7 linked regions of the Homo sapiens genome follow. The protein of the gene in region 7 interacts with the protein of the main gene of each other region in a biochemical or structural test. Each region holds a gene or a part of one and is shown on either strand. Other genes may lie near its edges.

What was found.
Region 1: the proteins of KPNA4 (region 7) and ZRANB3 interact in a test that uses a peptide from one of them, tested with the Homo sapiens proteins (one study listed by BioGRID).
Region 2: the proteins of KPNA4 (region 7) and SCAND3 interact in a test that uses a peptide from one of them, tested with the Homo sapiens proteins (one study listed by BioGRID).
Region 3: the proteins of KPNA4 (region 7) and HJURP interact in a test that uses a peptide from one of them, tested with the Homo sapiens proteins (one study listed by BioGRID).
Region 4: the proteins of KPNA4 (region 7) and PLEKHG4B interact in a test that uses a peptide from one of them, tested with the Homo sapiens proteins (one study listed by BioGRID).
Region 5: the proteins of KPNA4 (region 7) and TPX2 interact in a test that uses a peptide from one of them, tested with the Homo sapiens proteins (one study listed by BioGRID).
Region 6: the proteins of KPNA4 (region 7) and RCC1 form a complex in vitro, tested with the Homo sapiens proteins (one study listed by BioGRID).

Annotation. Positions count from the first base shown.
Region 1 is NC_000002.12:135,209,546-135,213,590, forward strand, and holds part of ZRANB3 (DNA annealing helicase and endonuclease ZRANB3), read right to left. Parts: intron 1-4,045. UniProt on the Homo sapiens protein: DNA annealing helicase and endonuclease required to maintain genome stability at stalled or collapsed replication forks by facilitating fork restart and limiting inappropriate recombination that could occur during template switching events.
Region 2 is NC_000006.12:28,580,519-28,584,563, reverse strand, and holds part of SCAND3 (SCAN domain-containing protein 3), read left to right. Parts: intron 1-4,045.
Region 3 is NC_000002.12:233,847,682-233,851,726, forward strand, and holds part of HJURP (Holliday junction recognition protein), read right to left. Parts: exon of another isoform or gene 2,179-4,045; coding exon 2,082-2,178; intron 1-2,081. UniProt on the Homo sapiens protein: Centromeric protein that plays a central role in the incorporation and maintenance of histone H3-like variant CENPA at centromeres.
Region 4 is NC_000005.10:157,805-161,849, forward strand, and holds part of PLEKHG4B (pleckstrin homology domain-containing family G member 4B), read left to right. Parts: intron 1-3,978; coding exon 3,979-4,045. UniProt on the Homo sapiens protein: Guanine nucleotide exchange factor (GEF) which specifically activates small GTPase CDC42 by exchanging bound GDP for free GTP.
Region 5 is NC_000020.11:31,798,035-31,802,590, reverse strand, and holds the end of TPX2 (targeting protein for Xklp2), read right to left. Parts: intron 4,227-4,556; coding exon 4,039-4,226; intron 1,622-4,038; coding exon 1,511-1,621; 3' UTR 791-1,510; downstream 1-790. UniProt on the Homo sapiens protein: Spindle assembly factor required for normal assembly of mitotic spindles. Required for normal assembly of microtubules during apoptosis. Required for chromatin and/or kinetochore dependent microtubule nucleation.
Region 6 is NC_000001.11:28,529,912-28,533,956, forward strand, and holds part of RCC1 (regulator of chromosome condensation), read left to right. Parts: coding exon 1-28; intron 29-611; coding exon of another isoform or gene 612-704; intron 705-1,891; coding exon 1,892-2,079; intron 2,080-2,259; coding exon 2,260-2,439; intron 2,440-4,045. UniProt on the Homo sapiens protein: Guanine-nucleotide releasing factor that promotes the exchange of Ran-bound GDP by GTP, and thereby plays an important role in RAN-mediated functions in nuclear import and mitosis.
Region 7 is NC_000003.12:160,520,572-160,524,071, reverse strand, and holds part of KPNA4 (importin subunit alpha-3), read left to right. Parts: intron 1-2,161; coding exon 2,162-2,293; intron 2,294-3,500. UniProt on the Homo sapiens protein: Functions in nuclear protein import as an adapter protein for nuclear receptor KPNB1. Binds specifically and directly to substrates containing either a simple or bipartite NLS motif.

The sequences.
Region 1 (4,045 bases), on a different chromosome or scaffold from region 7:
ATAAAGCCACTCTTGATATGGGATTCAGAACCTTATTACCCAACACTAACAATACCACACAATGTTCAGGGACTAGAAGTAAAGAGAAGTTATTCCCATTAAAGGTGATGGGGGAATTTAAGTTGGTAAAATGCAATTACCTGATTAATTCCTTCTTATTAATTGGCCTAGTTTCTCTGGTGGTTTACACCTATTGTAGATTTTTTTGGAAATTAGTTTAAACATGAATTTCTTAATATTATTGAGTGCTTCTTAATTAGGCAGCTTGACAATAAAATTAAAGTTCAATCACAATGGAATTGTGCAATCGTAGGTAAAATTTTAGAAATTTGCTTTATGTTATTAGGATAGATTTAATAATAAACAGGTTTCCTTTTTTAATAAACTATTTTATTAATTTTTGATTAGGTGATATAAGCACATGGTTCTAAATTCAAAAGGCAAACAAGCATGTTTATGGTGATGAGAAATTTTCTCTCTCACTCCCATCTTCCTTTTTCCCCTCCCCAAAAGTTACCTCTGTTGGCAGTTTTGTTTTTATTTTATTTTGACTCAAAATGATCTTGAGTCATTTTATTGCATGTCTTCTGGAAGCCATCACACTGAGACAGCAGTAACTGGAGTCTGACTGACATCCCTGGGATGTGTACAATACGTCCCTCACCAATTAGACCAAAAGATCTTTTAGGAACCCTGGATATCATTAGAGAAATAGTGTATTTCCCTATCTCTCAGAGACATGCTAATTCATCTTTGCAGAAATGCTGATTAATTCATTTTATTTTATTTTATTTTATTTTATTTTTTGAGACAGGGTCTCACTCTGTTGCCCAGGCTGGAGTGCAATGACACTATCTCAGCTCATTGCAACCTCCGCCTTCTGGTTCAAGCTATTCTCATGCCTCAGCCTCCCGTAGCTGGGATTACGAGCACGCACCACCATGCTTGGCCAATTATTGTATTTTTAGTAGAGATGGGAATTTGCCATGTTGGCCAGGCTGGTCTCGAACTGGCCTCAATTGATCCGCCTGTCTCAGCCTCCCCAAGTGCTGGAATTACAGGTGTGAGCCACCGTGTCTGGCTCATTTTAGAAATAGTTTATTTTTGGCCTGGCATGGTGGCTCATATCTGTAATCCCAGCACTTTGGGAGGCCAAGATGGGTGGGTCTCCTGAGGTCAGGAGTTCGAGACCAGCCTGGCCAACATATTAGTCTGCTAATAGTGATAGGTATCTCATCATAGATTTTAAAATTCGCATTCCTATTAAGAGTAAGGGGGAATATCTTTTCACACATTCACATGGTGAAACCCTGTCTCTACTAAAAGTACAAAAATTATCTGGGCATAGTGGTGTGTGTCTGTAATCTCAGCTACTCAGGAGGCTGAGGCAGGAGAACCGCTTGAACCAGGAAGATGGAGGGTGCAGTGAACTGAGATTGCGCCACTGCACTCCAGCCTGGGTGACAGAGAGAGACTCTGTCTCAAAAAAAAGAAAGAAAGAAAAATAAAATAAGAAATAGCTTATTTTTTTCTGAGTATAGGTGTATGCCTTTTATTTACTTACTTTTGCATTTCCATTGACATATCATTCACAGAGCATAAAATTCACCAATTTAAAGTTTACAATTAAGTGCATTAACAGTATATTCACAAGGCTGTACAACCATCATCACTAATTCCAGAATATTTTCATCACTCCAAAAAGAAACCTGAGGCTGGGTGCGGTGGCTCATGCATGTAATCCCGGCACTTTGAGAGGCCAAGGCGGGTGGATCATTTGAGGTCAGAAGTTCGAGACCAGACTGGCCAACATGGTGAAACCCTGTCTCTACTAAAAATATAAAAATTAGCTGGGCGTGGTGGTGCGCACCTGCAGTCCCAGCTACCTGGGAGGCAGGGGCAGGAGAATCACTTGAATCCGGGAGGCAGAGGTTGCAGTGAGCTGAGATCCCGCCACTGCACTGCAACCTGAGCAACAGATTGAGACCCTGTCTCAAACAAAAACAAAACAAAAAGAAACCCGTACCCACTAGCACTCATTTTTCATTATACCTTTTATTTTTAGAAATAAATAATAGCATAGCATATACACTAATCTTCACCTTGCTCTTTTTACCAAAACATGCTTCTCAGAGATCTTTCCTTATTATCATAGTTTCCCTATTCTTTTTAATGGCTCCATGTTATTCCATTATATGGATAAACCATATATTTAACCAGTCTCTCATAAATGGACATTTAGGTTGTTTTCATTCTTTGCTATCACAAACAATGCTGTAATAGATATCGTTATATATGATGTTTTCTACACATTATGTATCTATAGAATAAATCCCCAGAAGTAGAATTCCTTGGTCAAAGGTCTTAGGTGTTTTAAATGTGGGTAGATTTTGACAAATTTCTTTCCTCTAAGGTTATACCAGTGTATGTATCCACCAGCAATGAATAAGAGTATCTGTTTCTTCTCTTTCACTAGCACAATGTCATTTTTAAGAGTCTCTGCTAATAGTGATAGGCATCTCATCATAGATTTTAAAATTTGCATTCCTATTAAGAGTAAGGGGGAATATCTTTTCACATGTTTGCACTCTACTTGCATGTCTTTCTTAGAGCAAAAAGGAAATTAAGCCATCGTGCTCCAGTCTGGGCAGTAGTCGTAGTTAAAGCACAGTAAATTGTTTTAGAGTTCTTTTACTTGCCCTTTTAGTTCCCAAATTTCCTCCTTCTCTGGCCCCACCTCCAACAATTTCTTCAACCATTTTATTCCCTTGAAAAATGCACTTTGGGAAAGTATTTCTGTGAATTCTAAATGAACTCAAAAGCTTCCTAGCTTTGAGGGGCAATGGGATATTAAGCCTTGCCTGAGGTATTATTCAATGTTTAAAAGCTTAAAAACCTAATTCAGTAACTAAAAGATGCTGAGAAATCTAGTCAGAGATTTAGAAACTAAAAATAACCTTTTGCTTTCCTACAAGAGGTTTAAGAATAAATTTTTGGAAACCACAAGAAACAGACGAACAAATTCCAAAAAACGGAGCTGACAACTTTTCAAACGTAGTTGCAAGTTGCCGATACTTAATTTTCTACTGAGGTTTGCTAGGAAGTTCACCAACTCCCAAAAGGATTATGGTAAATCCCAATTTTAGTAAATAGAGAAGGGAGAATGTTGTCTACTAAACAAATTCCTGGATAGGGACGGGAGTGGAAGATGGCAATTTTTGCAAGAAAAGTGTACGTTGCAAAGTGGCCCACATCAATGAACACAATCTTGGGCTCTGGATTTCTGACCTGCTTTTGAGCTCAGCTGTAACCAGAGATTAAACAATTGGCATCCTAAACATGACAGGGCTCCAAGTGAATTAGGCCTGCCTCTGATAAATGGGACTCAGTAACCAAAACAGTGGCTGGTAATCTTGGCTACCATTCAAATGTAAAAGTGAGACATTCAAAAGCTGACTGCAAGCTCTGAGCTTGGATGGGGCCTGCAAACTGTTGGACATCACTGGCGGATAATCTGGTTGGAGACCTTTATCAATGTTTCTGGGGGAGTGCCCAAAGTCAGTTAACTATAGGTCTTTTTTCAGAACCATTCAGTACTTTTAAGAGAGAAATCCTCTAACGTCCTGCTTAGGAAGTAAAATGTCGCTGCTGTCAATCTGAAAGCTGTGCAAAAAAGGGGGTCCGAGGAGTTTCAGTTTTCAATATAATACCTCACTCTTTATCTCTACTGAGCCTGATGTTTCTAAGTCTGGAGACTCTCTGATTCAGTTTCTCTAGAAAGTAAATTGATAGGACAGTGTCTAACTGATCCTTATACAGACTGCCAGTCAATGCTGTTGTTCAACAGCATATTTCACATTTGCTTTCAGAGATACATGGTTATTCCAAATTACTGAGACTTAACTTGGGTTCTGCAGCAAGAATCAGAATGCTTCCCGATAGTATCTCCCTGCTGCAGGTACAGAGGTTTCATTTCATGATGCTGCTAAGTTGGTTTCCCTGGAGGCCTCTCTCTCTCTGCCTCTCTATAATCAGTCACCAAGTC
Region 2 (4,045 bases), on a different chromosome or scaffold from region 7:
GATGGTGATGCTGGGTGCAAATGCCAGTGGAATTTTAAAGCTAAAGCCTGTGATTATCATTCTGCCAATCTATAAGCTTTAAAATGAATTGTAAAGACTAGCCTTGGTGCCTACTACAGGTCTAGCAAGAGAGACTAGATGACAGGGCAGATATTTTCTGATCTTTCGGGTGATTTTTTTGTAGATTAAAAAAAAATAAAACATTGCAAGAGAAAAAAATTGTCTTTTAAAATTCTTATAATTCTCAGTGATACACCAAGCCACCCTCCAGTAGTCACTGAGCTTTCCTCAAATATCACAGTTCTCATTTTACCTCCCAATACAACTTCTTTACTGCAGCCCCTTAATCATGGTGTGATTGCAATCTTTAAAGCTTATTATTTAAAGCAAACATTCAAGATATTGGTTGCCTATACAGGGGGTGACAGTGCCCTAACATTTTTTGAATTCTGTAAATGATTCAACATTAAACTTATTATTGATATTATTGTAGAGGCCTGGAATGATTTCACAAAAGCCTGTTTGCACGGGGTGTGATATACAATTCTCCCTGATTTAATTTATGATTCCAAAGCCTTTGAGCCTTCAGAAGATCTCCCCAAAACCAACCCAAGCTGTATCGCTCTTGCAAAGGGGGTTGGATTTGAAGAAGTTGCTAGTGAGGATAATGCGGAGCTGCTGCAATCTGACACACAGGATCTTTCTACAGAAGAGCTGCAAGTTAGTTGCTGAGGCACAAATGGAAGGTGTGGAGGAAGAAGAACATGCAGTTCCACAAGCTACAAGCTGCCTCCCAAGAGCTTTTCACTTCTCAGTTATCTTCTGCTTCAAGTATGATAGAGAAGCAGTTGGAGTAGATAAAAGATAATGACTACAATGCAGAACGCAGCATGATTTCACTTCATGACATAAAGCCCTAATTGGACCCATATAAACAGCTTCTTTATGAAAGAAGGAAAGTGTTAAAACAGCAAACACTGGGTATCTTTTTATAAGCCAGTGTCAAATAAATAAAAACAAGATGATAAACGGGAACCCACATCATGTTTCTTGTAGTATCACTATATCCAAGGGTGGAAGAATATAACATCAAATGTTCAAGCGTCTTCACTTGGATTTTTGATGATTATATCTTTCCACCTTTGAATTGTTGTTGTTGTTGTTTGTTTGTTTGTTTGTTTTGAGACAGAGTCTCGCTCTGTCCCCTGGGCTGCAGTGTAGTGGCACGATCTCGGCTCACTGCAAGCTCTGCCTCCGGGGTTCAGTCATTCTCCTGCCTCAGCCTCCCGAGTAGCTGGGACTACAGGCGCCCGCCACCACGCCCGGCTAATTTTTAGTAGATACGAGGTTTCACCGTGTTAACCAGGATGGTCTCAGTCTCCTGACCTCGTGATCCGCCCACCTCGGCCTCCCAAAGTGTTGGGAATACAGGCGTGAGCCACCGTGCCCGACCCACCTTTGAATTTTTGATGATTATATCCTTCCACCCTTGCCCCCCCTTTCCTCACACTTGTTTCTAACAAGATAACATCACCTTTCTAAGGTAAAATCCTATACTTAAAGTAAGATTTATTAATGTCTTATATTTTTACTAGAGTTTTTATAGTGTTTTTTATTTTATTTTATTTTTATTTTTATTTTTTGAGACGGAGTCTCACTCTGTCCCCAGGCAGGAGTGCAGTGGCAGGATCTTGGCTCACTGCAACCTCTGCCTCCCTGGTACAAGCGATTCTCCTGCCTCAGCCTCCTAAGTAGCTGGGATTTACAGGCAAGCGCCACCACGCCCAGCTAATTTTTGTATTTTTAGTAGAGACGTGGCTTCACCATGTTGGCCAGGATGGTCTCGATCTCTTGATCTCATGATCCGCCCGCGTCAGCCTCCCAAAGTGCTGGGAGTACAGGCGTGAGCCACCGTGCGCCAGCCGGGAGTTGTTATAGTTTTAATAATGCTCTAGTGACAAAGTTGTGTAGGTGTTAAAATAGTCCACCCTTTAACCGTATTTTCCCCATAAATCCTGTCACTTTTCTGCAGTTTTGCAGAAAGCATGTTTTTTTAATACATTCATATGTTATGTTGCAGCACAAATGCCTATATAAGCAGTTTCTCACGTCTAGTCAGCACACCCTTTTCTCTTTGCTTTAAATAACAAATACTGTAGTTTTTTTCCCCCTTAAGATATGCCTGTTACTTTAGAATAGGGGTATCCAATCTTTTGGCTTCCCTGGGCCATATTGGAAGAATAATTGTCTTGGGCCACACTAAAATACACTAACACTAACGATTGCTGATGAGCTTAAAAAAAATCACAAAACAATCTTACAATGTTTTAAGAAAGTTTACAAGATTGTGTTGGGCCACATTCAGAACTGTCCTGGGCTGCAAGTGGCCTGCAGGCTGCAGGGTGGATAAGCTTGCTTTAAAATTTCCCCTTCTAGCTTTGTTGAAAAATGTAGCTTCTGGTAGGACTTGGTGTTTGGTCAGTTCCTTGGGTATTGTTCAGGTTATACGCTGATCATGTTTGATAGTTTTTTTAATGTGGTCAGAGTTATAAATATCTCTTAGTGTTGTTGAATATCAAGTTTGTATAAATGTTTCTCATTTTTCTTGTTTTTGTGTGATTTCCCCCACAGGGGAAATACCACTGGCAGACACTTTTAGCTGCCAACCCAGTGTCTATTCTACCCTTCTTTCCTCCCGACAAAATGTTGGTTTTGTTCATACTGGCAATATATCTAATTAAATTCTTTTCCAGGCTTCCTTGTTCTAGAGTTAACTATGCAACAGAATTCTGGCCAGGGAGAAATAAGCATATTTCGGGGAGGAGGTTCCTGGGGAAGCTTTTATTTTCCTGATAGGATAGGGGAGATTACTTTAGTTTCACCTTTTCTCACTTCCAGTCTTGAACACTAATATGATATCTGGCCATCTTCTGACCATTAAGTGATGGTAAGCATGAGGCCAAATGCTAGTGTTAAAAGTGACAGAGCAGAAATATGAAGACAGCTAGGGTCCCTGAAAAACTGTTAGATAAATGAGTTGGTGCCAGCAACTACCTTCTTCTAGGCTTCTTGTTATGTAACAAAAATAAACCCCTATTTGTTTGTGCCACTGTAAGTTAGATGTTCGAATTTATTGGAAATATGTGCATTTCTAATGAACACAGCAATATTTACTCTACCATATTACAACCAAAAGTTTCTTTCCAGCATTTTTATTTATTTATTTGAGATGGAATCTCACTCTGTCACCCAGGCTGGAGGGCAGTGGCACGATCTTGGCTCACTGCAACCTCCACCTCCCAGGCTCAAGCAATCTGCCTTCCTCAGCCTCCTGAGTAGCTGGGACCACAGATATGTGCTACCATGCCTGGCTAATTTTTTGTATTTTGGGCAGTGATGAGGTTTCACTATGTTGCCCAGGCTGGTCTCGAATTCCTGAGCTCAAGCAATCCTCCCACCTCGGCCTCCCAAAGTGCTGAGATTACAGATGTCAGCTACTGCACTCAGCTTCTTTCCAGCGTTAAAAAAAATCAAACCCAGGAATTGAATACTGAAAGACTAATGACTGTCATGACCAGTTTGAAGTAACTTCAGTTTTGTAATTTATTACCACTACCCAAGGTACTCTTCAAACTTCTGTGGTAGAGGCAGAAGTGGAGTTCCTCCCGGTTCTAAGACCAGGCCCACCCATTTTGGTCTAGTCCAGCTGGTGGAAAAGTAGAGGAATCAAGAGACTAGATTTGTGTTTGTGCTTGGGGGGGTGGGGGGGTGGGGGAGAGTCAGTGAATAATTCAGCACAATGAACCATATCCATATTTTGTTTCTTAGTTGCTCCAAAAGCTGGGATTGTGTATACTAACATTACAGAATTGATACATTGTTTAATTATAAACAGCAGGTGGCCCTCTTTCACAGATTCTGTTTCTGGCAGTTATGCAAAGATTTAGACAAATTGAAATGCATGCTATTATATTATACAAAGCAATTTACATAAGATACCTTATTAAGCTCAGAGAAGGGAAAAACATACCAAAGGGAACTGGCT
Region 3 (4,045 bases), on a different chromosome or scaffold from region 7:
AGATTCTGCACCACCTCCAGCTTTCCATGGCCTCTGAGCCTGGAAGTTGAGACGCTCAAGCCCAGCACTGCTCGACAGAACTTCCGGTGACCATGGAAAGTTCTCTGCCTGCTGTCCTAGGCCAGCCACTAGCCACACCGGGCTACTGAACAGCTGGGATGTGGCCAGTAAGGCTGAGGAAATGGATTTTAAATTTTATTTCACTTTCAACTAATTTAAATATCATCCAGAGAGGGCTGGTGGGTGCCATACTGGGCAGTACATCTATCAAATAACTATTTCCTGTGATTTCAAGCGGTTGGGGAAATTCATGGACCTAAGGATTTATAGTTAAAATCTGGATTAATAGCAGTAAACACATAGCACCACAGGTAAATATCCTCATGAAGAGCTTTCCAATTCTACTCTGAAAGACCACCAGCTTCCCTTTAGCGACTCAACACCCATCACTAACTATTGGTGTAGGCAAGGTGCCAGGAAAGGGACTGGGCAGAGGGGGACAGAGGCTGCGGAAGGCCAGTGTCCAGGAGAGACAGGTGTTTAAAGGCTAGTGACAAAACTGTTTCGCAAGCAGAGGAACCCAGGTCTAAAGAGCTCAGATAAGAGTGGGGGTCTGTTCCAGCCTGGGGATCACAGGGGCTTCCCGGGGGCAGCAAGGAGGCCATGCGGTCAGGCAGGACTTCAGGCCCCATTCTGGGTTCTGGCCTTTTACCCCAAAAGCAATGGGAAGCCACGTGTTGCATCAGAGAAGCGGCTTGACCACATTCACAGGGGCGTCAGTGGGGCGGAGGGAGCCCGGGTGGGGTTGGAGGCTGGTGCTCAGCGGGGACATGAGAGCTAACGAAGCACAAGGCACAGGACAGGGATGCCTTGGCCATGAGGAATGAGGCAGAGGCTGAGATGAAGATCCTGGGTTTCTGGCTAACGCTAGAGGGAAGACGGCAGGGGCCTGTACTGAGGCGCAGAGCAGAAGATGGGGAGCCTGTCTGTCGGGCTGAGTCTTAGCTGTGCCAAGTCTGGACATGAAGTATTGAAGCAGAGGGGCTGCTGGGCAGTAAAACGCCCCCAGTTGAGTTCTGGCTGGAGGTTACAGTCAGCACACAGAGAAGCCATGGCTCCACCTGGGGGAAGGGCAAAGGCAGCTCAAACAAACCCTCTAGAAAGGGCATCCAGCAGGGACGGGAGGCGAGCAGACTGCAGGCTTGGAAGGACGAAGACAGAAGGAGGAAAACTGGAGGAGCATGGGGCCGAGGAGCAGGGGGCCACAGAGGCCCAGGCCAGAACTTCTGGAAGGTTTAAATGCAATGGAGAGCGCAAAACCCAAAGAATAAAACCCAAAGAATGCTAACAGGATTTAGCAATGGGGTTGTGAGAAACCTCACCCAGAGTTGGGCTTTAGAGATGGAGCCGAAAGGAGTCGGGAGAGGAGGAACACACGGGGTTGGTGGGGTAGGGAATCCATGGCACCAAACGGAGCAGGTTATTTCACTCTGGTGGTAAAGGGAACTGGGCAAAGGGATGTGGCAAGGAAGGGGCCCAGGACAGGGGAGAGCCACGAAGGGTCTGATGTATCTAACGTGAGTCTGAGCGCATCTAAATACCGACGGATGGATCCAGGGGACAGAGACTGAAGACAGAAGGAAGGGGTGAGGGACAGATTCCCTAGAAAAGAGGACAGGATGGGGGTGGGCAGTGAGACTGGCCTGGGGAAAAGGAAGGAGCCTCCTAGGAGGACGAAGTGGGAAGCTGCCCTATAGAAGTGAGGGTTCACAACACCACCCTGTAGGGGCAAATCTTAAGTCTTACTAAATCTGGATATTAACTTTTCACATGGAGGGGCATGTTTATTTACTCAAAAAACACCTGAGTACCATTCATATGTCAGGCACCGGATGTAACTGTGGGCAAGGCAGAGCTCAGAAGGAATCAACAGGGTACTTTAACATGATTTTAGTTTTTAAGATATACCTTAGAAAAAATAAAAACTTCACTACTGAGGAATCTAGGCTTTAAGCTGTTGTAACAGGTGCGTCAGACCTGGTCCCTCCTGACTTCAGTTCTCTGACGAAGGCAACACTCACCGGCTCCCAGGACTGTGCGGTGCGAGGGAAGCTCAGGACCCCAGGCTGCAGCTTGCACGGAGCCATCTGTCCTGTCCGCGGGCTTCATGGAGGAGTCCTCCAAGTGCAGAAGCCAATAAAAACATGGTTGTTTGAGTGACAGCACATTTCAAAGTCACCGCAAAATAATAAAACTGCAATCCTTCTGTTAACACAGGAGACAGCAAGAGCCTGCCACAAGGCTTCTCTTCTCCCTGCATGTCCACTTTATAAGAGGCCTCAAGAGCGTAGGAAGGAGCTGAGGCTCCCCTGGGTTGCAGCGGGGGCTGCTACTTAAAAAGCCACTTGGAAGGAGCAGGGAAAGTCAGGGGCCCAGGCACGAGCAGATAAGCTCACACCTCCTAACAGTGGCCCAGGGATGACAGGGACTGGGGCAAACAAAAAGCCAAATTGAAACAGAACAAAATTGTCCTGAGGTCATCAGCGAGAACAGAGAAATAGGCAAGTGGCCCCTGGGCAACTTCCTGTGATCTTTAAAGAATATGCTGGAGTATTTAAGGCGGGGAGGAGCCAGTTTAAGCCCAAGCTAACGCACAGAGGCAGCTGCTTGTCCTGACCAGGAGCTCATACCTGGTGGGCAGAGGTGGTCGGGCGGCCACACTCCTGGTCAGGCCTGCTTCAGCTCTCCAGAGCCTGCTCTATAGCAGGCCCCACGAATAATCCCAGAGCATGGCATCGGTGGGTTCTCAGTAATGAAATTCAAGCATTCAGGATACCAGATTGGCTGAAATATTAATATTTTAGGAACCACCCAGCCTTATAAAAACAGGGCGTGAGAAGGTGGCGAGGCCTATACCGTTAGGGATGGTCCTCAGGTGTCAACTCTGAGGGTTCAGAGGACTTGGGGCTACCCAGGAGCACTACAGGGTAACTGAAGCCCACTTCCAGAATATCAGAACCTTTGCTTCCAGTGAAACCGTCACGTAAGGTGGAGTTTACAGGGTTGTTTTGTGGCTGTGTCTGAGGCAGAACCTGGTTTGAGAATCACAGAGAAGCAGACGATCTACACCAACCCCAAACTATGTGGTAGCTCTGGTAGCTACAAACAGAACCCAGGCATTGTGTTATAACCAACCCAGCACAGGTCAACACCCGGCCTGCCAGGGCCCACAGCCTCCCCCAGCCTCCAGGGCGGCAGGAGCACCAAGTCGTCTGGGAAAAGGTGAAGGCGGATCTGGACACTGTCACCAATAGCAATTACAGTGAAGTCAGAGATGTCCCCGCTGAAATCTCAGGCTACGCCCAGTTTCCTAATCCCAAGAAAGGGTCTGAAGATTCTGGAGACCCAGGTAGGGTTCCTCCTACATTTTAAGCAAAAACCTTAAATAAATCTTTAAATGAAAACTTTTTGCTACCAGGACCATATTAAGCACTGGTCTAATGAGTGGACATCTGTATTATGCATAATTCAAAGAGTATATATACTTTAACCCGATAATCCCACTTCTCAGCATTTATCGAAAAGGGGGACTATCAGTATTGGGAAGAGACAAGGACCGGGATTTTCTCTGAAAACCATTTCTAACAGAGGCTTTATAAATAAAGTTTTATTGGAACACTGCCACGTACACTCATTTACATATTATTTTCGGCCACTTTCCTCCTGCAACACAGAGCTGAGTAGTTACAACAGAGACCATAGAGCCAGCAAAGCCTAAAATATGTATCATCCGGCCCTTTGTGGAAAAAGTGTGCTGACCCTTATTTATTAATAAAGGAAGCCACAAATAGCTAATTGCCTATCAACAGGAGAGCAGTTAAAAAAACATGATTTTTTAAATAATTATATAATTTTATAATTATACAACAGTTGATGAAGAGAAGAGTTTGCCAGATGTATTAACCGGAAAAGTGAGGGAGAAAAAAATGCATTTATAAAGATATGTATTATAGGGAATCACATTGTACTAAAATAGCATTAGTGA
Region 4 (4,045 bases), on a different chromosome or scaffold from region 7:
GAATGTGCGGGTGAAAGAGCCAGCAGCATGGAGAGGCAGCAGTGGGGTGGAGGCATCCCCAGCCCTCCTGTCTGCTGGCAAAGCTCCCCCGGCCTTCAGGTCCATGCGCGTGCCCTCACGGGGGCCTCCAGACAAAGACGTGCAGCAGGGACGCGAGGCACTGTGCATGCTCCTGGCCTCCCCACGACTGACCCCAGCTCCCAAATATTGGCCAGGGGCCCAGCTGGTCCAATCCCTGGGGCAGGAACAGGAACCCCACACCAGGCAAGTGGAGTCCAGGCCAAGCTGCAGCCACCAGCCAGTCCGGGCTGTCTCCAGTCTGTGCCCTCTGTCCTGGGGGTCTCCTCCATCTCCCCTCCTCCCTCTGCTCTATCCTGGCTCCATCTCCCCTCCTCCCCCTGCCCATCCTGGGGGTCTCCCCCATCTTCCCCTCCTCCCCCTGCCCATCCTGGGGGTCTCCTCCATCTCCTCTCCTCCCTCTGCCCATCCTGGGGGTCTCCTCCATCTCCTCTCCTCCCTCTGCCCATCCTGGGGGTCTCCTCCATCTCCTGTCCTCCCTCTGCCCATCCTGGGGGTCTCCTCCATCTCCTCTCCTCTCTCTGCCCATCCTGGGGGTCTCCTCCTTCTCCTCTCCTCCCTCTGCCCGTCCTGGGAGTCTCCCCCATCTCTCCTCCCACTGCCTATTCTGGGGGTCTCCCCTATCTCCCCTCCTCCCTCTGCCCATCCCAGGGGGTCTCCCCCATCTCCCCCTCCTCCCTCTGCCCGTCCTGGGAGTCTCCTTCATCTTCCCCTCCTCGTTCTACTCCGTCCTTGGGGGGGTCTCCCCCATCTCCCCTCCTCCCTCTGCCCATCCTGGGGGATCTCCCCCATCTCCCCTTCCTCCCTCTGCCTGTCCTGGGGGGTCTCCTTCGTCTTCCCTTCCTCGTTCTACTCCTTCCTGGGGTGTCTCCCCCATCTCCCCTCCTCCCTCTGCTCTTCCTGGGGTCTCCTCCATCTCCCTCCCCACTCTGCCCCATCCTGTGGTCTCCTATTTCCTGTATCCAAGTCTTCCTCTTTTTTCATTTACTTTGGCGTTTTATGCAGAATAACTTCCAGGACTTCCCAGAGAAAGGGATCTTGGGGTGAGCATTTTTGAGGCCGTGGTATCTAAAAGCATCTCTACTCCACCTTCATGGCCAGCAGTCACTTTAGTTTCCCTTCGCCAGCTGGAAGGCCCTGCGCCTGTGCTTAGCTTCCATCCCACTCCCAGCCTTCTGCCTGTGCCCTGCTTCTCGGTGGAAGCCACAGACTTTCCTGTCGTCCTCGGGGCTCTGGAATCTGAGGGTTGCCCAGGTGCGCTGAGGGCAGGTGTGCCCGAGGGTCACCCAGGTGCACTGAGAGCAGGTGTGCCTGAGGGTGGCCCAGGTGTGCCTGAGGGTCGCCCAGGTGCACTGAGGGCAGGTGTGCCTGAGGGTCGCCCAGGTGCACTGAGGGCAGGTGTGCCTGAGGGTCGCCCAGGTGCACCGAGGGCAGGTGTGCTCTTTGTGTCTGCACTGCGCCCCTCTGTTCTGGGAATTCTGTGACATCCTTCGTGGCGCTCGCATTTCCCACAGCTCCACACTTCCATCTGGTTCTGGAGTTTTCTGTCCTGTTGCCTTAATTTTCCCCACCCCTGGCTGTGTGCTGTCCTTGTAAGGTAGATTTTTCTCAGCTTTACCCTCTAACTCTATTATTGAGTTTTTTGTTTCTGCTCTTGCTTTTTAACTCCATGGGCTTATTTTCTGAACAGTCCCCTCTCCATACTAATCATGATGAGTCTGCACAGTCTGTGGCTTCTGTGGGTTTGTTCTGGCGCCAGAGGCTTTCCTGGCGACCCCTGGCTAGGAAGCCTGTGGCCCACGCATCTTTAGCATTTTCTCCCTGGCGGTCTGATTCTTTTCCTCTAATCCCGGCCTGAAAGGAGAGCCTGGCCGTAGCTCAGTGTTCACCTGCCAGGGAACAGACCCTGGGCCCTGTGGAGCAGGGTGCCCAGCTCCTTCCCTCCGACACTCCCTCACCCTGTCCTGTGGAGTCTCGGGACTTGGCCTCTGCTCTCCTCAGGCCCTGCCACTCCCGCTTCCTTCCCGGCCTCCAGGTTTGTGCCCTGGCTGCTCTCTGCCCACCGTGCTGAGTGTTACGCCTTGGAAGATGCTTGCAGGGCTTTAGTGGTGTCTCAAGAGGACACGTCTCACTCTGCAGTCTTCACCCAGAAACTCCACGTTGTGACCGGACAGGCGATCCTGCTATGTATAGGTGCACGTCTGTCTCTATATATTTAACCTAAAAAGTGCATGCACACTGTGGGAAAATTAGAAACAAATAGATTTTTACACACGGGATGCCGCATGTGGCGGCCTCGGCACCCTGTGTGTGGGCATGCGCTGCAAGCTCAGTCCCCGAGCCATGTTCACACGGCTCCCACACTGAAGGCCCTGGGCTCCTCCCCTCTCTGCTGTTAGAAACTCCCCATGTTGAACATCTCTGTGTCTCTGCTTCCTTCACAGCCTGTGGGTGTTGACTCTGGATACATTCCTAGGCTCGGATGGCTGCGGTCAGACCATTTGTTTTTGGAGGTTTCCACGCATAAGCCGTGGCACTCCAGCCGCACCTGCCTCCCGCCGGCTGCCCCGTGGGGAAATGGAGCCCCTAAACAGTGTGCCCTCAGATTTTCTATGCGACAGCTGGACATTCTCTTCACACGTTTATTATTTTTATTTCTGTAGTGAATTACTTGTTCATGCTTTAGACAGTTTTTCTAGGGTTGATCATCACTTCTGTCTATGTTATATGGATCCTTCATGTTCTGCTTGTTTTCCTAGTTTGTCATTTGCCCTCTAGCTTTGCTTATCTTTTAAACAGCCCTTTCTACCTTAAGTTATAGAATTATTAGTGTATTTCATCATAGAACCTTTATGACTTGAATTTTTGTATTTAAATCTTGAAACCAATGACAGCCGATTTTTCCACAAAGTTGGAGGCCAGGCTCCAGCTCTGCGCCACCCCCACTCTGCTCTGCCGAAGCCGCACCTGCCCCTTGCCTGGCAGTTGCAAGACTCTGCCCGTGCTCCTAAGAATCAAGATGCTGTGATTTTCTTCTTGACTCTGGCTCTGTTTACAGACAGCGTATGTGCTGGTCTGTCTCTCCTCTGCTGCATGTCTGGGGTCATTCGGTACCTTCTGATGGTCATGGATCCAGGCAGCTGTTCTCTTCTTCACAACAGGCCTCTCATCTCTGGGCATCTGACCCCTAGTCGCCCCTGGTGTTGCTGTTTAACGACAACATGAAGGGCTTACCTCTGACATTTCCACTGAATCCAGCAGTAAATGCCTCCAAAATAAGAACCTTGGTCTTGTCACCAGGGCGCGTAGCCACAGGCGCTCCGTCCAGCAGGGCTCAGCCAGGGGCTCCCCCATCTTTCCCAGGCAGCCTCAAGGGGCCAAGCAGCCACTGGCCTGAAGAATATTTCTGGAATATGCTTACCATATTAACCAGTTTCAAAATGGAAAGTCCTGGATCTATTGTTCAATGATTTTAATGTCCTTTTCCAAACAATGAAAATAGTTTGGAGCTTGAGCCTCAGAGGCCCGTGCCACCTCTCATCAGTCGTGTTCATTCACGGGTGGTTACGCAGCCAGGCTGTCAGCCCTGTGCAGCGTGTACTCAGGACATGACCAAGACGCATCCCTCCCTCGGTCCTGCTAAATCCTAGAGTGTGACTTCTTCGCATGTTTAAATATAAAATGTTCTTCCCCTGTGTAGATCAAATCATAGTTTGGAAAAGAACTAGAGAAATGCCTCGGTCCTTTGGTGCCTGCTCTCGAGAATGAGAGGCAGCAGCAGGCAGCACTGTGGGCCGTCCGAGCCTTGGTGCCAGTGGCTACACGCAGACCCAGCCCACACCTGGAGACATGAACGTGGAAGCACCGGGCTTGTACTGATGCTTTGTTCCTTGGGTACAGCAATCCTGCCAGAAAGGACTACAGCTGGCGAAGGAGAACCCGCAACGTACAGAGGAAATGGTCCAGG
Region 5 (4,556 bases), on a different chromosome or scaffold from region 7:
TTGGGAGGCCAAGGTGGGTGGATCACTTGAGGTCAGGAGTTGGAGATCAGCCTGGCTAACATGGTGAAACCCCATCTCTACTAAAAATAGAAAAATTAGCCAGGCATGGTGGCACACACCTGTAATCCCAGCTACTTGGGAGGCTGAGGCAGAATCGTTTGAACCCAGGAGGCGGGAGGCTGCAGTGAGCAGAGATTGTGCCACTGCTCTCCAGCCTAGGTGACAGAGCGAGACTCCATCTCAAAAAAAAAATTTAACTTGAGCTGAGTCTTTAGGGAAGAAGGTACAGTCTGTGTGAAGGCATAACATACATGATTAAGTGGTTACTGAGAGAGAGTTAACAGAATATGGAGATATTCTGACATAAGACAGAAAAAAATTACAAAGTACTGTCCTGGGCCGGGCATGGTGGCTCACGCCTGTAATCCCAGCACTTTGGGAGGCCGAGGCGGGTGGATCACAAGGTCAGGAGATCGAGACCATCCTGGCTAACACGGTGAAACCCTGTCTCTACTTAAAATACAAAAAAAATAATTAGCCGGGAATGATGGCGGGCGCCTGTAATCCCAGCTACTCGGGAGGCTGAGGCAGGAGAATGGCGTGAACCCAGGAGGCAGAGCTTACAGTGAGAAGAGATCGCACCACTGCACTCCAGCCTGGGCGACAGAGCGAGACTCCATCTCAAAAAAAAAAAGTTCCTGGACCCACCTCTCAAACTACCCATTTCCCAATAAGATGTGACCTCCAAAGGGGCTTAACAGATTTAAAAACATCAAATAACACAATCAGGGAGGGAAAGACAAAACGTATTTATTCCAGGCCAGGTCTTAAAATGCACACTGCACGGTTCCCTGTTGTTATCAGCACCAGTAAGGAAAGAACGTGCCTTAACGGCAGCCCCACCCAGAGCCTGCTGCGTGGCTGCTGTGAGGCTCCCCATGAATCCACGCAGTCTTCTTCCTCACTGGTGCAGTTGGTGAGGTTTTCTACCCTCACAGCAAAGGGATCCTTAACTATAAATTCACGGTATGCAGAGAAGAGGACAGAATCTGATTTACTGATTGTTCCTCATTTAAACCATGACTTAATCTCTATCTTAGGATTTAACTATCTTTATTTTCTGGTTAAAATTTTTAAAAAAAGTGGGGAGAGGGTGAGAGTCGTAAGGGGCAATAGCAATAGAGATTACACTGTGCTGACACAGAGACTAAATTCTAGTCAGAGTGAAGACCCATATAAAAGGCCGGCTGATGGTTTAAAGGAAGTAACTACATGGAGTCTAATCGAGACATTCATGAGTTACATCTCATTATTAGCCTTAGTAATGTAAGAAAACAATTCTCAACAAAACTGGAGTCCACAGTTGTCAAGTATGCTTTCTCAGGCACGGGTAGGTAAAAGTCTGGAGAAATGGGTTCTCTCCATGCCCAATGACAAAGCAAGACGGTCCTAGGTTTGAGGTTAAGAGCAGGTCCCATTGCCGGGCGGTATCCGCAGCTCACAGCTGAGTTTAGCAGTGGAATCGAGTGGAGAATTTGGGAGATACAGGCACAGTCAGAGGCTGGTCACTTGACTTTATCTCCAGACCCTGGTACTTGCGTATTGGATTTGCCTTATGCACCTGCAAAGTAAGGAAAAGTTACCAGTGAGAGGGATGTCAGAGAACTACGCTTATAATTGCTTTTATTTTTTTCTTTTTGAGAAAATGTTTGTAGAGTTTTACAGGTCCCAGTCACTAGTTTCAGGTGTGGGGAGTGGGGCCTGGGGGGCAACACGGTATGATGGAAAAGTGTATGTGCTTTGGAGCCCAAAAGGGTTTCTATTCAGGTCTCTATTGGGTCCCCCAGCTTTCCTTTAGGCCACAGTCTCCTCAAGTCCCTCAGCTTTCACTAAAGAATGCCAAACCTATGTCCTGTGTGATTTACTAGGGTATAATAGGGCTGTACTCAAGTATAGCAGAGAAGTTACAAGCTAAGAATTTCCCAGAGTACAGTCTTAAGTTTACTGACTATAAATATTCACCAAAAGCCTGAATCCTGGGGAAAAAGCAAAAACAAAACACAACAACCATACCAGGAAGGGTGGCTAAAGAAGGCATGGTCCCATCCATCCTTTAGGGTAGTCTAAAATCAATCCTAAATCAAGCCAGATTAGTAGAGAGTTAACCAGCATTGACTGAATTGTGCTTTACAATGTTGCCATCAGTTATGTTGAGAATTGCTGCAAGAAGCAGTTCTATAATGGGGACAAACACAAGAGGCAGGTACCAAATGCTAAAGAAAAATCAAAGTTGAGGCCGGGAAAAAAGGCTGATTGTATGAGTGTATATAGAGTGGGGATTATACTATTTTCTCATTCACTCAGCAAATGGTAGTCTAGATTTTACCAAGAGGCTGGTCTCCTAAATAGTGTGTCCGTGGAACCTTCCTATGGGCATAATCACCTATGCCAATAGCTGCCAATAGCTGTTTCAACTGCTAGTCTAGCATTTTATTTATTTATTTAAAATAGAGATGGGACTTTGCTATGTTGCCCACGCTTTTCTTGAACTCCTGGGCTCACGCAATCCTCCCACCTTGGCCTCCCAAAGTGTGAGGATTACAGGTGTGAGCTGCCACATCCAGCTGTAGTATAGCACTTTTAGACAAAACCTCAACAACTTACACTTCTTTTTTTTTTTTTTTTTTTTTTTTGAGACAGTCTCGCTCTGTCACCCCCAGGCTGGACTGCAGTGGCACAATCGGCTCACTGCAACCTGGGCCTCCCAGGTTCAAGCAATTCTCCTGCCTCAGCCTCCCGAGTAGCTGGGATTACAGGTGCGTGCCACCATGCCCGGCTAATTTTTGTATTTTTAGTAGAGACAGAGTTTCGCCATTTTGGCCAGGCTGGTCTCCAACTCCTGACCTCAAGTGATCCACCCACCTGGGCCTCCCATAGTGCTGGGATTACAGGTGTGAGCCACCATTCCTGGCCTTCTTTCTTTTTAATTGACAGATAACACTGTATATTTTTATTGTGTACCGCTGATGTTTTAAAGTAGACATACATTATGGAATGGTTACTATGTGAGATAATGCATTTGTTAATTAGCAAGATGCTAATTAACATTGTAGTGTGAGCACATAACATCCACTTATTGTAGTGTGAGCACATAACATCCACTTTCTTTACAGTTTTCAAGAATACAATATATCATTAACTACAGTCACCTTGTTATATGATAGATCTCTTGAAATTTACTCCTCCCATCTAACTGTAACTAAGTAACCTTTTACCAACATCTCCCCATGACCCTTTCTTTTTTTATTTATCATACGAAGTTCCATCTAAAACTGTCTGCTTCTTCATTAACACAGTTAACACAACTTGCTGCCCTCCTAGCAGATTGGTCCTTAATGTGGAGTTCAGGTTTCTTTTTGGATAACCAACATCTAAATAATTATGTTAGTAGAGGATTACCTGGAGCGACGAACACTGTAACTCCAAGGAGTTTGGGCTCAGTATTAAAACAAAAATACAGTTGCCATTTAATTCCCATGTCCTTCGCTATGTATTCTTGTCTAATTACAAAACTCAGTGGTGCTTCTTAACCCCAGAGGAAATAATAAGTTACATAAATAAAATAAACAAATAAATAAAAAACAGTCCTAGGAAAGGCATCATGGTTATACCACATGTTGTCCTCCTTATGAAAACTTCCGGAAGAAATTCTGTCTAAAAATTCACTATCAAAGGGATAAATGTATTTTTTGAACAACTGTCTTATGTCTCATGAACACTGCGAGTTTTGTAACTGACAGGTTGGTTCCTAAAAAGGGCCAAAATTACAGCTCCTACTTAGATCACAATGTACACATCGTTAGCTTCATTCACAACTCAACTTCATCACCACCCTCAGTTTGTGCAATTCCCCCTTTCACTCATTGTCTTTGGTACAGCCTTGCGGGCTACCTTAGATCCTGTCTGGTACAAGGTAAGGTACAGGTAAAATAAAACAGAGGCATGTTTGTGTTCGTCAGTGCTCATGCTCCCAGTTACCAGTTCTCTCCGTAGCCTGGCCAGCTCCTCTTTTTTCTGCTCTTCCTCCTGTAGTCTGGCCTCCTCCAACTGCTGGGCTTTCTGGGCTTCTACCTCAGCCATTCTCTTCTCCAGCTCCTGCCGCTCTTTGGCTCTCTTCTCAGTAGCCAGCTGAAAAGGTTCCTGAACTAGAGAACCAGAAAGGCCCTCTAAGTACAGAAACAGAAAAAATATTGGTGCACAAGCAGGACTTGCATAAACCTACGCCCCCTGGAATGAGCAAGTGGCACAGACATGCACACTAACAGGAAGACTGTGCTCTAAACAAGCCCCATTGGGAGAAAGGTAGAGCCAACTAAATACAAAAAGTTTTAGAATTTTAAGAGTTCAAAGGGCCCCTGGAAATCGTCTGGTGTAATTGGGAAAAAGGCAAAGACATAAAGTAGCTTGCACAAAACTATATAGTGATTGATTTTGAGGCAGACATAGAAGAAAGATCCCAATATTCTTTTTTTCCCTTTTTGGAAAGATTTTTTTGA
Region 6 (4,045 bases), on a different chromosome or scaffold from region 7:
GCCATCCCCAAAAGCAAGAAGGTGAAGGGTAAGTTGGCCTTGGCCTCTTTGTGGGTACAGGTGGCCCCTTGAAACCCTAAGAACCCGGGACTGGGCTCCTTTCTTCCTGAGGCTTGAAGCTGAAGGGTGTGGATGTGCAGAGACCCCACCCAGCTGGAAGGTTTCCTGTAGCTCATTGAATCCTACCCTCTGGGAATCACAAAGTGGGCAGAAACTCCTCTCAAAGCACTCAGGCAGCACTGGCACAAAAAAAAAAAAAAAAAAACTAGACCCTAGGGCTTCACCCCAGGCAGTGATGCATTATGGTTAGGACCACTGACTTTCCGACATGGGTTCAAGTCCTTGCTCTGCCACTTTCTAGCTGCTGGGCAAGTCACTTAATCCCGCAGTTTGGATTATCAACTTCTTAAAATGGCGGCAGCCAGAGCAGCGTCACCCTCTCTGGGCTGTGTGAGGATGAGATGAGATAATGGCCTGGCAGCATTTGAGGGAGGTGGCTGTGGTTTCCTCTGTCCTGGGACCCCGGAGGGGGACAGGGAGGAGAGAAAAGCCAGCACCAAACTGGGAGGGGAAGTGTGGACCCACGCTCAGACAGTGTCTGTCTTTTGCAGACACGAGGGCCGCTGCCTCCCGCCGCGTTCCTGGCGCCCGCTCCTGCCAAGGTGCCTGCGGGCCGAGCCCTCCTGACCAGAAAACCCGACCAGGTGGCTCCGCGCCCGGGGCGCCCTCTGTGCTGCCAGCGCGGGCTCCTCAGCGGTGGCCACATCCTCGGGGGAGGGGCTGGGCGCCATTGGCTGCCCGGGGCTGCGGGTTGGGGGGCCGCCTTTGGCCCACAGAGAGCCCCGGGCGCGCACCTCCCGCAAATGCCGCTGTCCGCTCTTCCTCCCGCCCCTCCTGCCTCTCCACTGGATGGTGGAGGGAAGAGTCCGTTTCTGCAGTGGATTTGCCCGGGAGCTGAACTTATTCACTGGCGGACGGCTTGGGCATGGAGGAGGGCTTGGATGGAGACTGGGGATTGTTCTCTGACCCACGTAGTCTCCCTTGCTTTCGGTGCAGATTCTGCTATTATAATTAGCTTTCTGCGGGGCAAGGTGGCTCACGCCTGTCAGAAGATCGAGACCATCCTGGCTAACACGGTGAAACCCCGTCTCTACTAAAATACAAAAAATTAGCCTTGCGCGGTGGCGCGCGCCTGTAGTCCCAGCTACTCAGGAGGCTGAGGCAGAGGAATCGCTTGAACCCGGGAGGCAGAGGTTGCAATTAGCCAAGATCCACCACTGCACTCCAGACTGGCGACAAAGGGAGACTCCGTCTCAAAATAACAATAACAATAATTAGCTTTCTTTTCTTTTTCTTTTTTTTTTTTTTTTTGAGATCAAGTATCACTCTGTCGCCCAGACTGGAGGCGGCAGTGGCACGATCTTGGCTCACTGCCACCTCCGCCTCCCAGGTTCAAGTGATTCTCCTGCCTCAGCCTCCTGAGTAGCTGAGATTACAGGCTACTGTTGGCAAGGCTGGTCTCTTAACTCCTGACCTCAAGTGATCCGCCCGCCTTGGCCTCCCACAGTGCTAGGATTACAGGTGTGAGCCACCGCACCCAGCCCTTCTTGCCCTCTCCACCAAGATTCATTTCACAGTATCCAGTGTCTCCTTGTTTCCCTTTCTCCCCTTTCACGTGAATAATGTGCTCAGTTCTTAATCTCCACAAAAATCCTGTGAGAGAGGTACTTTTGTTGTCCCCATTTCACAGATGACAAAACTTAGAAAGTTCATACTAACAGTCTGTGGCAGAGCAGGGGCTTCTGCACAGGTTTGTCTGATCCCAGAGCCTGTGACCTCTCCTCGCTGTCGTCATCCTCTACACTCAGGGTCTATCTTCTTCACCCTTCAGTCTCACACAGGTCCCACAGCACAGAACCCGGCTTGGTGCTGACACTAGGCCAGGGCGACGTGGGCCAGCTGGGGCTGGGTGAGAATGTGATGGAGAGGAAGAAGCCGGCCCTGGTATCCATTCCGGAGGATGTTGTGCAGGCTGAGGCTGGGGGCATGCACACCGTGTGTCTAAGCAAAAGTGGCCAGGTAGGTGTTGGGGACTGGCACAGGGTTGGACAAGGCCTGGGGTTGGGTGGCTTGGGGCAGGGCTTTTGAACCACGCATGTTCACTGTGGAAATGGAGCTGGCTAGTCAAGTGGGGAGTGGCCTACATGAGAATGGACTGCGAGGCCAGACGTTGCATTAATGAGGGCATCCTGGGCACAGGTCTATTCCTTCGGCTGCAATGATGAGGGTGCCCTGGGAAGGGACACATCAGTGGAGGGCTCGGAGATGGTCCCTGGGAAAGTGGAGCTGCAAGAGAAGGTGGTACAGGTGTCAGCAGGAGACAGTCACACAGCAGCCCTCACCGATGATGGCCGTGTCTTCCTCTGGGGCTCCTTCCGGGTAAGGCTGGGTCTGAAAGTCTGCATGGTCCCTGAAAGACAGAATTAATTGGCGGGGCCCCAAAGATAATCCACTTCCATGCCCCCATGGTACTTACTGGTGGGGAGATGAAAGCCCACAGGTAGAGCTGAGGCCCAGACCCAGGACTCTAGCTTCCTCATGTGGGCCTGTCCACGCCACTGGCTGCTTCCTTGAATCCGATGTCATCAAGTGTCTGTCCTGGGAAGTGAGTGGGTCAAGGATGTCCCTGGGTTGAGGCTGATCCAGGAGGCCTGCTGTCTTCACCCATCTCCCTGACTTCTGTCTCCCCCTCACCTTGCCAGCACTGCCTCTTCCACACTTCCCAGAGGCTTGGATGGGGCAAGGAGGTGTGGAGGCAGGGATTGTCGCATCTCAGAGTTTCCAAGGTACAGAGGAGTGTAGTTGAAAAAACAGATTGTGGGTTTTTGTTGTTGTTGTTGTTGTTGTTTTTGTATTGTTTTGAGATGGAGTTTCACTCTTGTTGCCCAGGCTGGAGTGCAATAGCGCAATCTTGGCTCACTGCAACCTCTGCCTCCCAAGTTTAAGTGATTCTCCTGCCTCAGCCTCCCAAGTAGCTGGGATTACAGGCATGCGCCACCACGCCTGGCTAATTTTGTATTTTTAGTAGAGACGGGGTTTCCCCTGTTGGTCAGGCTGGTCTCGAACTCCCGACCCCAGGTGATCCACCCGCCTCAGCCTCCCAAAGTGCTAGGATTACAGGCGTGGGCCACCACACCCGGCCTGATGGGTGTTTCCTTATCACATCTATTTTGAAATTTTCATGGAGAATTTCAAACACATGAAAGTAATCAGAATTGGGCTGGGCGCGGTGGCTCATGCCTGTAATCCCAGCACTTTGGGATGCCAAGATGGGCAGATCACGACGTCAGGAGATCGAGACCATACTGGCTAACATGGTGAAACCCCGTCTCTACTAAAAATACAAAAAATTAGCCAAGCGTGGTGGCGGGTGCCTGTAGTCCCAGCTACTCGGGAGGCTGAGGCAGGAGAATGGCTTGAACCCGGGAGGCGGAGCTTGCAGTGAGCCAAGATCGCGCCACTGCACTCCAGCCTAGGGGACAGAGCGAGACTCCATCTCAAAAAAAAAAAAAGAAGTCCGGGCGCAGTAGCTCATGCTTGTAATCCCAGCACTTTGGGAGGCCGAAGCAGGCTGATCACCTGAGGGGTCGGGAGTTCGAGACCGGCCTGACCAACATGGAGAAACCCTGTCTCTATTAAAATTACAAAATTAGCTGGACATGGTGGTGCATGCCTGTAATCCCAGCTACTCGGGAGGCTGAGGCAGGAGAATTGTTTGAACCTGGGAGGCGGAGGTTGCAGTGAGCCGAGATCGCGCCATTGCACTCCAGCCTGGGCAACAAGAGCGAAACTCTGTCTCAAAAAAAAAAAAAAAAAAAAAAAAAGGAAGTAATCAGAATATCAGAATTATATTTTTTTCTTTTCTTTTCTTTTCTTTTTTTTTTTTTTTTTTTTTTTTTTTTTTTTTTTTTTTTTTTTTTTTTTGAGACAGAGTCTTGCTCTATCACCCAGGTTGGAGTGCAATGACACAATCTCGGCTCAGTGC
Region 7 (3,500 bases):
TTTGATCTGAGCATATTAGTGACATGTCCTTTAAAAACATGTATCTAGCTTTTATATACAGTTATGAGCAAGTAACTTGAAATTTTTGGCCTATGTCAACAAATTTTAGCATATGTTAATATTCCAGAAAAGAAACTCAGTTACATTTGCAAATTGAAATTTAGGTTTTTTCACATATATTGATACCATTTTTTTATGTGAATTCTTTTTTTTTTCTTTTTGAGACAGAGTCTCGCACTGTTTCCCAGGCTGGAGTGCAGTGGCATGATCTCCACTCACTGCAACCTCTGCCTCCTGGGTTCCAGCGATTCTCCTGCCTCAGCCTCCCGAGTAGCTGGGTTTACAGATGCCCGCCACCACGCCTGGCTAATTTTTTTGCATTTTTTAGTGGAGACAGGGTTTCACTATGTTGGCCAGGCTGGTCTTGAACTCTTGACCTCGTGATCCACCCACCTTGGCCCCCCAAAGTGCTGGGATTGCAGGCGTGAGCCACCACACCCAGCCTGTGCGAACTCTCATTTGATGTCTTCTTTTTACATTAGAAATATCCTTAGAGCTTTCTTGAATTTCCTAAGAAACAATGGCAAAGCATTATTTTCACCTTTTAGGAGTTTCGGGGTGTCTTTTTGGTTTTTTTTATCTTATTTTTTTATTTTCTCTTGGGTGTCCTAAGCATAACATTAGTTTACAGTTTTACGATTTTTTTAAAGTCAGGGTCATAAAAACAAGAAAAAATAAACAATGCCGAATTGTTTCTGTTTTTCATAGAGACGGGGTTTCACCGTGTTGCCCAGGCTGGTCTGTAACTCCTGGGCTCAAGCAGTCCACCTGCCTTGGTCTCCCAAAGTGCTGGGGTTACAGGCGTGAGCCACTACTCCCTGCCTAGTTTATTGTTTTAAAGGTTTTACACTTCTCCAGCTTGTCTTGACACAGAGTTCATATTCTGGAAAGGCTTTGGAAGTAGTTTTAGGCACAATTATTATTCCCATGTCTTTGTCAATAATTTGTGTATTTATTTGCAGCAGTTACAGTTGTTTGTCATACTGCCCTTTGGTCATAACTTCTAATTAGGACCTAACGTACTAGGAAAGATCAAACACATGGCCTGTTGTACTTAAAGATGTAATCGTTAAAAAAAATGGTAGGCTACTTAGTAGAAGTTGATTACACAGGCTTTTTTTTTTTTTTCATAAGTAGCAGCTGTAGTGAAGTACGTATTTTTTGTTTTAATTACAGGTCTCACAGATTGACCTATGATTATTTTAATGTCTTGATCTGCAGCTGTAGGGGACTTCCACTATTTAAGAAGTTGCTGGCCGGGCGCAGTGGCTTACGCCTGTAATCCCAGCACTTTGGGAGGCCGAGGCGGGCGGATCATGAGGTCAGGAGATCGAGACCATCTTGGCTAACACGGTGAAACCCCGTCTCTACTGAAAAATGCCAAAACTTAGCCAGGCGTTGCGGCATGCGCCTGTAGTCCCAGCTACTCGGGAGGCTGAGGCAGGAGAATGGCATGAACCCGGGAGGCGGAGCTTGCAGTGAACCGAGATCGCGCTGCTGCACTCCAGCCTGGGCGACAGAGCGAGACTCCGTCTCAAAAAAAAAAAAAAGTTGTCTCCAGTTCTGTAAGGCAAAACAAACTGGTTGGAAAAGATTAAAGTATTTTATACTACAATATGAATACTTGGGTTATTGGCTTTAGGCATATCTACATGGTACTTACAATACTAGAGAACTCCTTGAATATATTCATCTAGCCCAGATGTTTTGAACAACTGTGCATGTTGGATACATGTAGTCTTTCCAGCTTTATACATGAGCCACAATGTTTTTGGACCTGTTATCCCTCAGCCTTTGGGAAAGAGAATGTCTTTTTCTCCTGTTTTATGAGCTGTGTAGTGTGCGTGTGTATCTTAGTGAACTAAGATTGGATACTAATCTGGGATCAGAATCCTGAATATGGCTAAAAGATGTACGTCTTAGTACAGACATTTATAGATGATGATGTTTAATACCGTAGCGATCAGATTCCAATGAATTAAACTGAGAGAAGAAAAGAAGGAAGAAGGTAGTTGAACAATTTTAGAATGGTTGTTTGGTCAAGAATTACTAAAATGAGAAAATATTTAAAAGTTGTTTGAATTTTTATTTTATTCATTAGATACTGGTAGACACAGTCTGGGCCCTCTCTTACCTTACTGATGCTGGCAATGAACAAATACAGATGGTAATAGACTCTGGAATAGTTCCTCATTTGGTTCCTCTGCTCAGCCACCAGGAAGTTAAAGTTCAGGTAAGTTTGTTCTTAGTTAAATTATAAGTATTTCTTACCACTAATTGCTTTAAGCATGGCATTCAAAGATGGACAATTTCAGTAGTTTAAAGTATATTCTTAGCATAACAACAAATCTGTGATGGAAAGGGGAAAATAAATAATAAGATGCCATTGTAGATTACTAATTTCTTTTTTTAAGATGGGGTCTCACTGTCACCCAGGCTGGAGTGAGGTGGCGTGATCTCAGCTCACTACAACCTCCACTTCCTAGGTTCAAGGAACATTCTCCCACCTCAGCCTCTTGAGTGGTTGGGATCACAGGCACACACCATCATGTGTAGCTAATTTTTTTCTATTTTTGATACAGTCAGGGTTTTGCCATGTTGGCCAGGCTGCTCTTGAACTCCTGGCCTCAAATGATCCTTCCACCCCAGCCTCCCAAAGTGCTGAGATTACAGGTGTGAACCACCATGCCTGGCCGGATTACTGATTTTTAATGTAGACCAGGGAAGTTCATTATAGCAACATGCATGGCATCTGAAACAAGTATTGACAGACACTTATTTTTTCCTACTCCTCTTCTTTTTGTTCTTCCTCTTTCACTTCCCTACTTCTTTTTTTTTCTTCCTTGCCAACCATCCTTATTTACTCACCTGGCAAGTTTAGTTAACTCTTATCTTCATTGGTGCTGAAATAAGGGTACTCTACTGAAATGTGCTGTTTAGGGACTTTCTAAATTGTTGCTTTTCACTTATTTAAATTTATTTTTTATTGTTTAAATTCTTTCACATAATATTTATCCCAAAGAATTTGCATTTAGAAAGAGCCAAAAACAGAGTGTGAGAAGTTCTCAGAGATATAAGCAGTAGCTGTTAAGCTACAGTTGTAATGGGGGAGACGCAGCAAGCTCCCTCTACCTTTCTGAGGTAAATAGTATATTTTAATCTGCTAATGGCTTAGAATCTGTAAAGTACAATAATCGCATAAGAGAAACCGTTAGTCTGTAGCCTAAGTCATTATGCCTGAACATCAAAATAAACTGTGTGGAGCTGTTTTTAATTTCTCCTGCTCAACCCCTGGAGATTTCTGTTTCAGAAAATATTTCTTAGAAACTTGAGCTTTAAAATGCTCTTCAGGTGATACTGATACATAGTCAGATTAGAGACCCTGTACCTTAAAATTAAAGCACTTTAAAGAAGGAACACTTAGCTAAATACAGAAAGAA